2 separate regions of the Homo sapiens genome follow, and region 1 is linked to region 2. The links come from fine-mapping of genetic effects on gene expression. Tissue or cell type: whole blood. Region 2 holds a variant in brackets; the other region holds the start of a gene. All regions are shown on one strand. Distances are from middle to middle.

Region 1 (4,233 bases), 23 kb before region 2:
TAATGTGGAGATGAACTATCGTTTGGCAGAGAGGATGGAAAAAATCATTCCAGGAAAAGAGGAATGGCTTTAGCTATTGTTGAAAACAGATAATCAGGTTATAAGCAGGCAAGAGTAAGAGGTTTGTCAAGTTATTGTTGGAAGCATTGGTCACTGTGACTCAAATTAAAGTAGCTGGATAAAAAAGTGGACCAATGAAGGTCAGTGAAACCTTTCTTTAGGAGTTTTTATTGAATCTGTATTTAAGCAGATTCTCTGTAATTCTCTGTAAACAGTTATTCCCGGAAGAATGCCATGAAATACTTGGGAAAGAGGGAATGGGAACAAAGAGTGAGTGGGCACAAAGCCCAGAGTTGGTTGAAAAGCAAATGTTTAATTTTTGTCTTTGTTTGGAAATACAGGCATGTCAGCAGGACTTTGTCCCCACTGTCCTTCAATCAGTAGTGTTGCCTCTTCCTGGAGACGTGGTTCTTCTTGCCACGTGTGCTTTTCCTTCTTTACCTGTTACTTCCGTTATTGAATAAGTTCATGCTTATAGACCTAAAGTGTTAGAATAATAAAGAAATATAGAAATTATTTAGTCCATTCTTCCCATCATCTAATTTTATAATTAGTCCTAAGACAGAATGATACATATATACTCTGTATGAAGGAGGAAAGTGCTCTAACACTAGGGTCCTTGGAAACAGGACCCGTGCATCCCGTGTCTGTGTGCAGGGACATTATTGGCTTGAGGGAGAGAGAGAAAAAAATCTCCAGGAAAGGGGAATGACTTTCAAGTTAAAGCTGTCTGAACATTTAAAAAATATATGAGGTTTTTTGCAATTGGCGATTCCTTCATTTGTATTAAAATTACTGACAAAGATGTGATGTTCCTTAATCATAGAATATAATTCCTTGTTGTATTTTAAACACAAATGACTAAGTGCTTAGATGCATTCTAATGAAATAGTAATTTTTCCCCCAAACCCTACTTTTCATTTCAACAAAACTTCCTTGTGCCAAGTTTAAAAGAAAAACATAAAACTGTCTTTTTGCATTGTGGGCAGATTGTGTATCCTCCAAAGGTTGTCCAGTGAAGGCCCAGAGGCAGAGAAGGGACCTAACTATATTCAGAGGCTGCTGGTTGCCCCACCTCAGCACTACTGCAGAACTCTAAAATCAGAGGCTGCTCTGTTTGTGTGAGTCGGTGCTTGAATTGGTGCTTCAGGCCATGGGGCTGTGTGTGTGCAGGCGCATATGGGTTGTATGCTGTGGCAGGGTACCGCTTTTCGGGACTCAGAGGTGGTGTTGCTTGAGCTAAGCCTGGAAAGACAGGTCAGTTTTCTCCTTGCTTATGAAGGGTTCAAAGTCTGACTCCACCATTCATCTGCTGTTTGTTCTTGGAGTTTCCTCATGAGCAGAGCATATTTACATAATGCCTACCTCACACAGTCCTGGTGTTGGTTGAATGTAGTCATGTATGTGAGAGCTTCACAAAATGAAAGATTGCACTGAATATTATAATTATTGTGATTTCAAGTGCATTTGTTTTACTAGCAGGCAGCCTGTCTTTTCTTGACACCTTCTCAAGTGCAGCCAGACTGAATACTTGGCAGCTAGGTGGGTGACAACAGAGGATTGAGGATTTTTAAAAAGATAACACTGTCCTAGATCCAACACCACTGTGGGCAAATGCTGGGGGTCTGTGAAACAGTTGGTACCCTGCTGCTGTCTGATATTGGAAACTATGAGATCTATAAGGTGATCCTGGTGACCTTTGGCCCACTGTTTTTACGCAAGCAATGGATCTACAGCCCTGCTTTGATGATGGAGATAAGCAATTTTGCAACTACATTACAAGGATCAGAAGATTGAATGTTCAGGGTTAGTCTCTTGTGGACAGGTAAAGATGGAAGAAGGAGAAACCCAGGAAACATGGCAAGCCTGCTTCTGGGGGTTAGAAGCTGAGAAGTTGAGTGTAGGGGGAGGGGCAGTGTACTAATAGCTGTCACACAACCTTCTCTGGAAGTGCTTTCCTGGCTGTATGAAATCGATGGAATAACGTGCTTAGCATCCGTTCATGAAACCAAATGATGTGATACGATAAATAGGATGTGATATGATAAATGATAAATAGTACAGTGGAAAAGCATCCTACTGGAAGACCATATCTTACTCTGTGACATCTTCCAAGGCAGTTCTTGGAGTTGGCCCAGGGAGATCAGAGATGCTATCTTATGGATCCAGACTATTATGTGTGAATAGGGAAACCTCAGTCCTGCCATGAACAAGAGTAAGCACCACAGACAGCAGAAAAGGGCAACTTTTGGACAGAAGGCCATGTTTCTCAAACTTTGTCTTCCAGAACAAATCTCTAATCCATTCAGGTGGGTTAATATCTAACCCAATCATGCCCAGCGAAAAGGTGAATGACCCTCCTCGTTTGTTCAAGAGCAGTGTCCTTGGTTTTCATGTCCCTGCCAGGACTGGGACACTATATATTAGGAACACTATATAATCAGAACCTGGAGAGGCCTCCAGGTTCACACAACTGGAACCCATCTCCAGGAACAAACAGCTGGAACCCATCTCCCGTTGAAGGGAAACTGCCAGATTTTTGTAAGATTCTTCCTCCTGGGTAAACTATTGTTCAATTTGTTTTATATATTATTTCTAGCCATCCATCCATTTTAATGAAACCATTTTCCTCCCTTTAAAGCCTCCAGGCTCAAGCTCATGAATTAAAAAGAAAATGGATCAGATTCTAAAGTTTAAAATGAAAACAGGTTTCTTTTGGGATGGCCTATGTGTGGATAAAGAGAAATTAGTGAGACTGGGAGGAAGTGGAAGTTTAGGAGGGATTTCTAAATTGTGATAAAATCCCCAAAGGCCTGGGGGAGCCATTTGCTGAAGGCCATCGGGAGTCCTCCCCCGTCGTCCACCCCTGTTACAGGCATTACACGTGGCTTAACAAGGAAAGAAACAGTATGTTTTTAGCATTGTTTCCTTCTAACCTTCCCTGCTAATTTCTCTTCTTAGAAAAGTTTTGGATGCTCTTTCAAACAAAGTGGAACACATCCCAAGATCAAAAGAAGGCTCACTGGCAGGTTGAAGGGAAGAAGGAAGGAAAAGCAATAAAGGGATGAATATGCCTTGGGTGTTAGGCTCTTACTTTGGGGGATTTTGCCCTAGGATGTATAAAAGTGTGAAGCCACATTGATGAAAATGATAACTATAGTTACTCATCATAAACTGTCAAGTTAACTCCCTGGTGTGTAAAATTTGATGAATCTTTTGAATACTGAACATTGCCTGTGGGGAGAGGGAGAGAATAATTCTTGTGAATACTAACAGATTCATTTGATACAGAAGATAAAGTTACTCTAAAGAACAGTTGGGGCCAGGTGTGGTGGCTCACACCTGTAATCCCCGCACTTTGGGAAGCCGAGGTAGCCGGATCAACTGAGGTCAGGAGTTCGAGACCAGCCTGGCCGACATGGCGAAACCCCGTCTCTACCAAATACACAAAATTAGCCAAGCGTGGTGGTGGCCGCCTGTAATCCCAGCTACTTGGGAGGCTGAGGCAGGAGAATTGCCTGAACCTGGGAGGTGGAGGTTGCAGTGAGCCAAGATAGCACCACTGCGATCTAGCCTGGGCGATAGAACAAGACTCTGTCTCAAAAAAAAAAAAAAAACAGGCCGGGCGCGGTGGCTCACGCCTGTAATCCCAGCACTTTGGGAGGCCGAGGCGGGTGGATCATGAGGTCAGGAGATCGAGACCATCCTGGCTAACAAGGTGAAACCCCGTCTCTACTAAAAATACAAAAAATTAGCCGGGCGCGGTGGCGGGCGCCTGTAGTCCCAGCTACTCGGGAGGCTGAGGCAGGAGAATGGCGTGAACCCGGGAGGCGGAGCTTGCAGTGAGCCGAGATTGCGCCACTGCAGTCCGCAGTCCGGCCTGGGCGACAGAGCGAGACTCCGTCTCAAAAAAAAAAAAAAAAAAAAAAAAAAAGAAAAGAAAAGAAAAAAAGGACAGAGAACAGCTGGGACTAATTCCACTGACAAAAAGCTGACAGACAGTTACGTGTTTGGGTACAGAAGGATATATCTATAGGACTTTTGCCACCAGATGTGAGGCTTTGCACCCTTGGCTTAGGCAGATTCACTTTTACACCACAAACGATCTGTCTCTTACTGGTTTTCTCCCAATTCCATTTTACCTTGCTTTTTGAGGAATTTAGAGTTGAATAT
Region 2 (4,233 bases):
GCACTTGCTATAATTTGTAAGTGCCTCAATATGCCAGATGATGCTTTCTAAGCCTGCTTGGGGGAAAACAAGGGACAGGAGATGGTCGTAGGAAGGGAAAACCGGCCTGGTCCATTGGTGTAACACATCTGGAAAGTGTGCAGGCTGCCTGGTGGTTTTTGTTAATCAGCCCCGGACCTATGGGGGTCCTAACGTGCACTGCCCTATCCATCCATCAGGTAGACATGGCCGAAGATTAGTTTCACATAACTATTGAGTTCCACTGGGGACCAGCCACCAAATTTTGGGTCTGTGTCCAATCAGTGGTAAACAGGTTTGTCTAATATAGCACTAAAGAATGTTCATATTGATGTAGAGGCATCCTATCCACATTTTTAGTAACATTCGGCCAATGATTCTAAGAGTGATTCCTTTGTTCCCAACATGAAGTGGCAATTTGGGTTAAGTGACTAATAGTGGAGATCATCCAGAGGTAATCGTCCCAAATTTGATAAAAACTCACCTACCGTGTAATGGTTATTAGTAGCCAAAATCTTGGGGGCCATCTAGGAAAACTCCTTTAAGAGAGGGATTGCATACTCAGAGGTCCTTTGGATAGTCCGGTTATAATGAAGAGTTTTCCAGGATCTGGATTCTGAAGCGTTATATTAATGCCAGGCCATTTTTAAAAAATATTACCTTAAGTTACCAAGGTCCTGATTTTCCCATGAACAGTTTTTCATATACGTTTGTAAATGTATCTAATCAGTCCCCTGCAGGGGTGATACTCACTAAAGTAGCCCAGAAGTGCTAGAGATGGGTAGCAATCCACATACCCAGCAAGCATCTTAGTGTAGACTATCTGCATAATGTTATGCCCACTGTAGAAATAGACTAGTTTTAGCAGATGTCAAAAAAGTTTACTCATTATGATAAAGAATAACAGAAATTTAATCCTATAGTACAAAAAGATTTTTCTTAAGCAGTAGCTTCAGTTCTCCAGTTGGCTCACAAGTCCAACCAGGTTGATTGTCTGCTGTGTCAGGTTGGGGAGGGGCGATTTTTACCGAAATGTGATGTATGCGTGGTTTGACTCCAGCCAGCTTAACAGATGAATGAGTAGTTAATAAAACATCATAATGACCTGTCCACTTTTTGGCTGGCTGTTGTTGGTCCAGTCCTTGTTTTTACCAAGATTTTAGCGGCACTTTATCCTTGGATGAAAAGGGTGAAGGGGCTTTTTTGTAAGACACATAAAACTGGAAAGAACAAAAAGAACAAACTTGTGCAGGGTTAGTGATTTATGTCTTAGTTGTTGTACATATTGTTTAATTCTTGATTAATTTATTAAGTCCAAGGGTGGGGTCCCTGGCCAAGAACTTCAGAAGGGTCTCCCACACACAATTTCAAAAAGGCTTAATTTAAGCCCACTTCAGGGTGCTACCCCAATCCATAGCAGGGCAATAGGTAAAACCCTTTACCATTTTAAATCTGTTTCCCGATAGAGTTTTGCCAGGGGTTTTTTTTGGTTTTTTTGTTTGTTTGTTTTGTTTTGTTTTTGTTTTTGTTTTTGTTTTTTAGCATGTGGATCATCTTTTCAGTCTTTCCAGTTGATTGTGGCCTCCAACAAGAGTGTCATTTCCATTTGATCTGTAATGCTTGGCTTATCCTTTGTGTGATCTCAGAAATTAAAGAAGGATTATTGTTGCTTGGTATGGAGTAAGGAAGTCCAAATCGAGGAATGATTTCTTTTAGCAGAGCCTTAGCTACTTCTGCAGCTTTCTCAGACTTGTTCGGATAGGCTTCAATCTCTTGCTCGGGTAAGCTTCAACCTTTCCAGAAAATGTGTCTACAAACACTAGTAGGTACTTATAAATCCCAGTGTTTTTGGCATCTGGGTGAAATCAACCTGCCAGTCCTCGAATGGTCATATTCCTTTGTATTGTATCCTCCTCTGGGAAGAGTTGCATGCAGTTCTTGAATCATTTGGGGTA[T/C]ATAGATAACATGCTTGTATAATCTTTTGAATGATCTTTTGAAGGTGTGGCCCTTTGAGATATGGCTACACCAGGTGAGCCAGTCCATCTCTGCCATAGTGTGTCCCCTCATGCAGGTCTTTCAGGACTGGGTATACCAGGGCCTCAGAGAGTAATATCCCATGAGTGTTAGCTTTCCATGAGGAACAAGGGTCTGTGTTGGTCAATGTCCACTCATGTGTGCATTCTTCATTTCATTCAGTGTAGTGGAGTTTAAATTCTGACAAGTTTAAATGGAGTATTAAGGTCCCAAGTAAATATGTTTCTTGAGTGGCCTGCTTTGCAGCTTTATCAGCCACTTGATTCCCTTTGGTTATTGGGGAGTCATCCTTTTGGTGGCCTTGGCAGTGCATAATAGCAACTTGAGTTGGCAGAACAACTGCCTCTGACAAAGCTAAAATTTCCAGCAGGTGTTTAATGTCTTTATTTCTTGAGGTTAAGAATCCCCTTTCTTTCTGAATGACCCCACGGGCATACACTACCAAGAAGGCATACTTGGAGTAGGTGTAAATGTTTACCCATTTCTCTTGAGACTGTTTTAAGGCCCTGATGAGAGCAATCCATTCAGCTTTTTGTGCTGAAGTACCAGCAGCGGGGACATAGGCTTCTACTACTTTGTCTAGGGTCACTGGAGCATACCTGGCCTGGCGTTGTCCTCCTTCTGTGAAACTGCTTCAGTCAGTGTATAGCTCCCAGTCCGGAGTGGCCATCAGATGATCTGACAGATCTGGTCTGCTGGAATAGACTGCATCAAGAATTTCTAAACAATTATGCTCCAGTTCATAGTTGGACTCAGTGGCTGGGAGCAAGGTGGCAGGATTCAAGACTGTGGTGGTTTGGAGAAAACATTTCTGTTATCTAATAGGCTGGCTTGGTATTTGCCCATATGCCCCGCTATCATCCAGTAACCTCCCTTTTGTTACAATAAGGTTAACACTTGATAAGGCACAAATGCAGTAATGGGCTGTCCTAGGGTGAATTTTTCTGCTTCCTGTAAGATATCACACGTAGCTGCCACGGCCTGAAGACAAGGTGGCCATCCTCTGGTAATCTGCTCCAGTTGTTTGGGAAAGTAGGCTATGGGTTGTGGGGAATTCCCACGTAGTTGAATTAGTATTTCCTGTCCTGTGCCCTGGTTTTCATGGATATAGAGTCTAAATAGCTTTCAAGAATTGGGCAGTCCTAATGCTGGAGCTGACACTATTTTTTTTTTTTTTTTTGATGGTATCAAATGCCTGAAGGCATTCAGCCATCCAGTTTAGGGCTCCTGAATCTAATCCCTTTAGAGCCTTGTAGAGAGGTTTGACTATGAGTCCAAAATTAGGGATTCAGATTCAGCAGAAACCTGCCACACCTAAAACCCCCCACAGTGTCTTCCATTCCCAGGGGCCTTTATTGCTGCTATCACCTGTTTCTGGTTGGACATCAAGCTCTGCTTTCCTTGTTTTTAGTCAGAAGCCAAGATAGGTCACTTCTTGTTTACAAATCTGAGTTTTCTGAGGTGATATGTTACGTCCGTATTATATCAAATAATTTAAGATTAAGATAGTGTTAGATAGGCACCTCTCATAGTCTTGGCTTGCGATTAACAAGTCATCCAAGTATTTTAGCAGAACCCCATCATCTAGTTGAAAATCTCTGAAGCCCTTTGCCAATATTTTGCCAAAGATGGTGGGTGAGTTTTTAAAACCTTAAGAAAATACAGCCTAACAATATTGGAAGGTGTTTTTTGTTTCCAGGTCTTGCCACTCAAAGGTGAACAGCATCTGGTCCCTCTCTTCAATCAGGATGCAAAAAAAAAAAAAAAAAAAAAAGTATCTTTTAAGTCTAATACCGAAAACTACCCATACTGCCCTGGTTTATCAGTTAGTAAGGTGTAAAGGATGGGCATAGTTGGGTGAATGTCTTGAACAATGTCATTAATGGTTCCCAAATCTTGTACAAATCAATATTCATTTGAGTGTGGGTTTTTAACAGTCAGGATAGGGGCATTGTATGGAGATCTGTAAGGACATATTTGTCCATTTTTTAGAAACTTCTGTAATATAGGTTGTATCCCCTCTAAAGCCTCTCTTTTTAGAGGGCACTGTGTTTGGGGAATACCTTAGCCCCTTCATTTATTTCTGTGCACACAGGCTGTGTATTTTCAGCACTACCTGTGGTCCCATCTGCCCTCATGACTACTTACTTGCTCACAGATTGCTGGCAGGAGGCATTCTTT

The links. PIP is the estimated chance that this variant, and not a neighbour inherited with it, causes the effect.
Region 1: it holds the start of ANG, and the variant in region 2 is fine-mapped to the expression of ANG in whole blood (TOPMed, PIP 0.95).

Annotation. Positions count from the first base shown.
Region 1 is chr14:20,686,255-20,690,487 of GRCh38, forward strand. It overlaps ANG (angiogenin), which reads left to right and starts at 2,510. Exons shown (of 2, transcript NM_001097577.3): 1 at 2,510-2,620. The region is part of intron 1 of RNASE4 (ribonuclease A family member 4); the gene reads left to right.
Region 2 is chr14:20,708,881-20,713,113 of GRCh38, forward strand. It overlaps LOC124903282 (a long non-coding RNA gene), which reads right to left. Exons shown (of 2, transcript XR_007064061.1): 1 at 4,201-4,233; 2 at 913-2,838. Among named protein-coding and RNA genes, the nearest start is that of EGILA, 4.1 kb to the left of the region's middle. The variant T/C (reference allele first, on the strand shown) is at 1,974.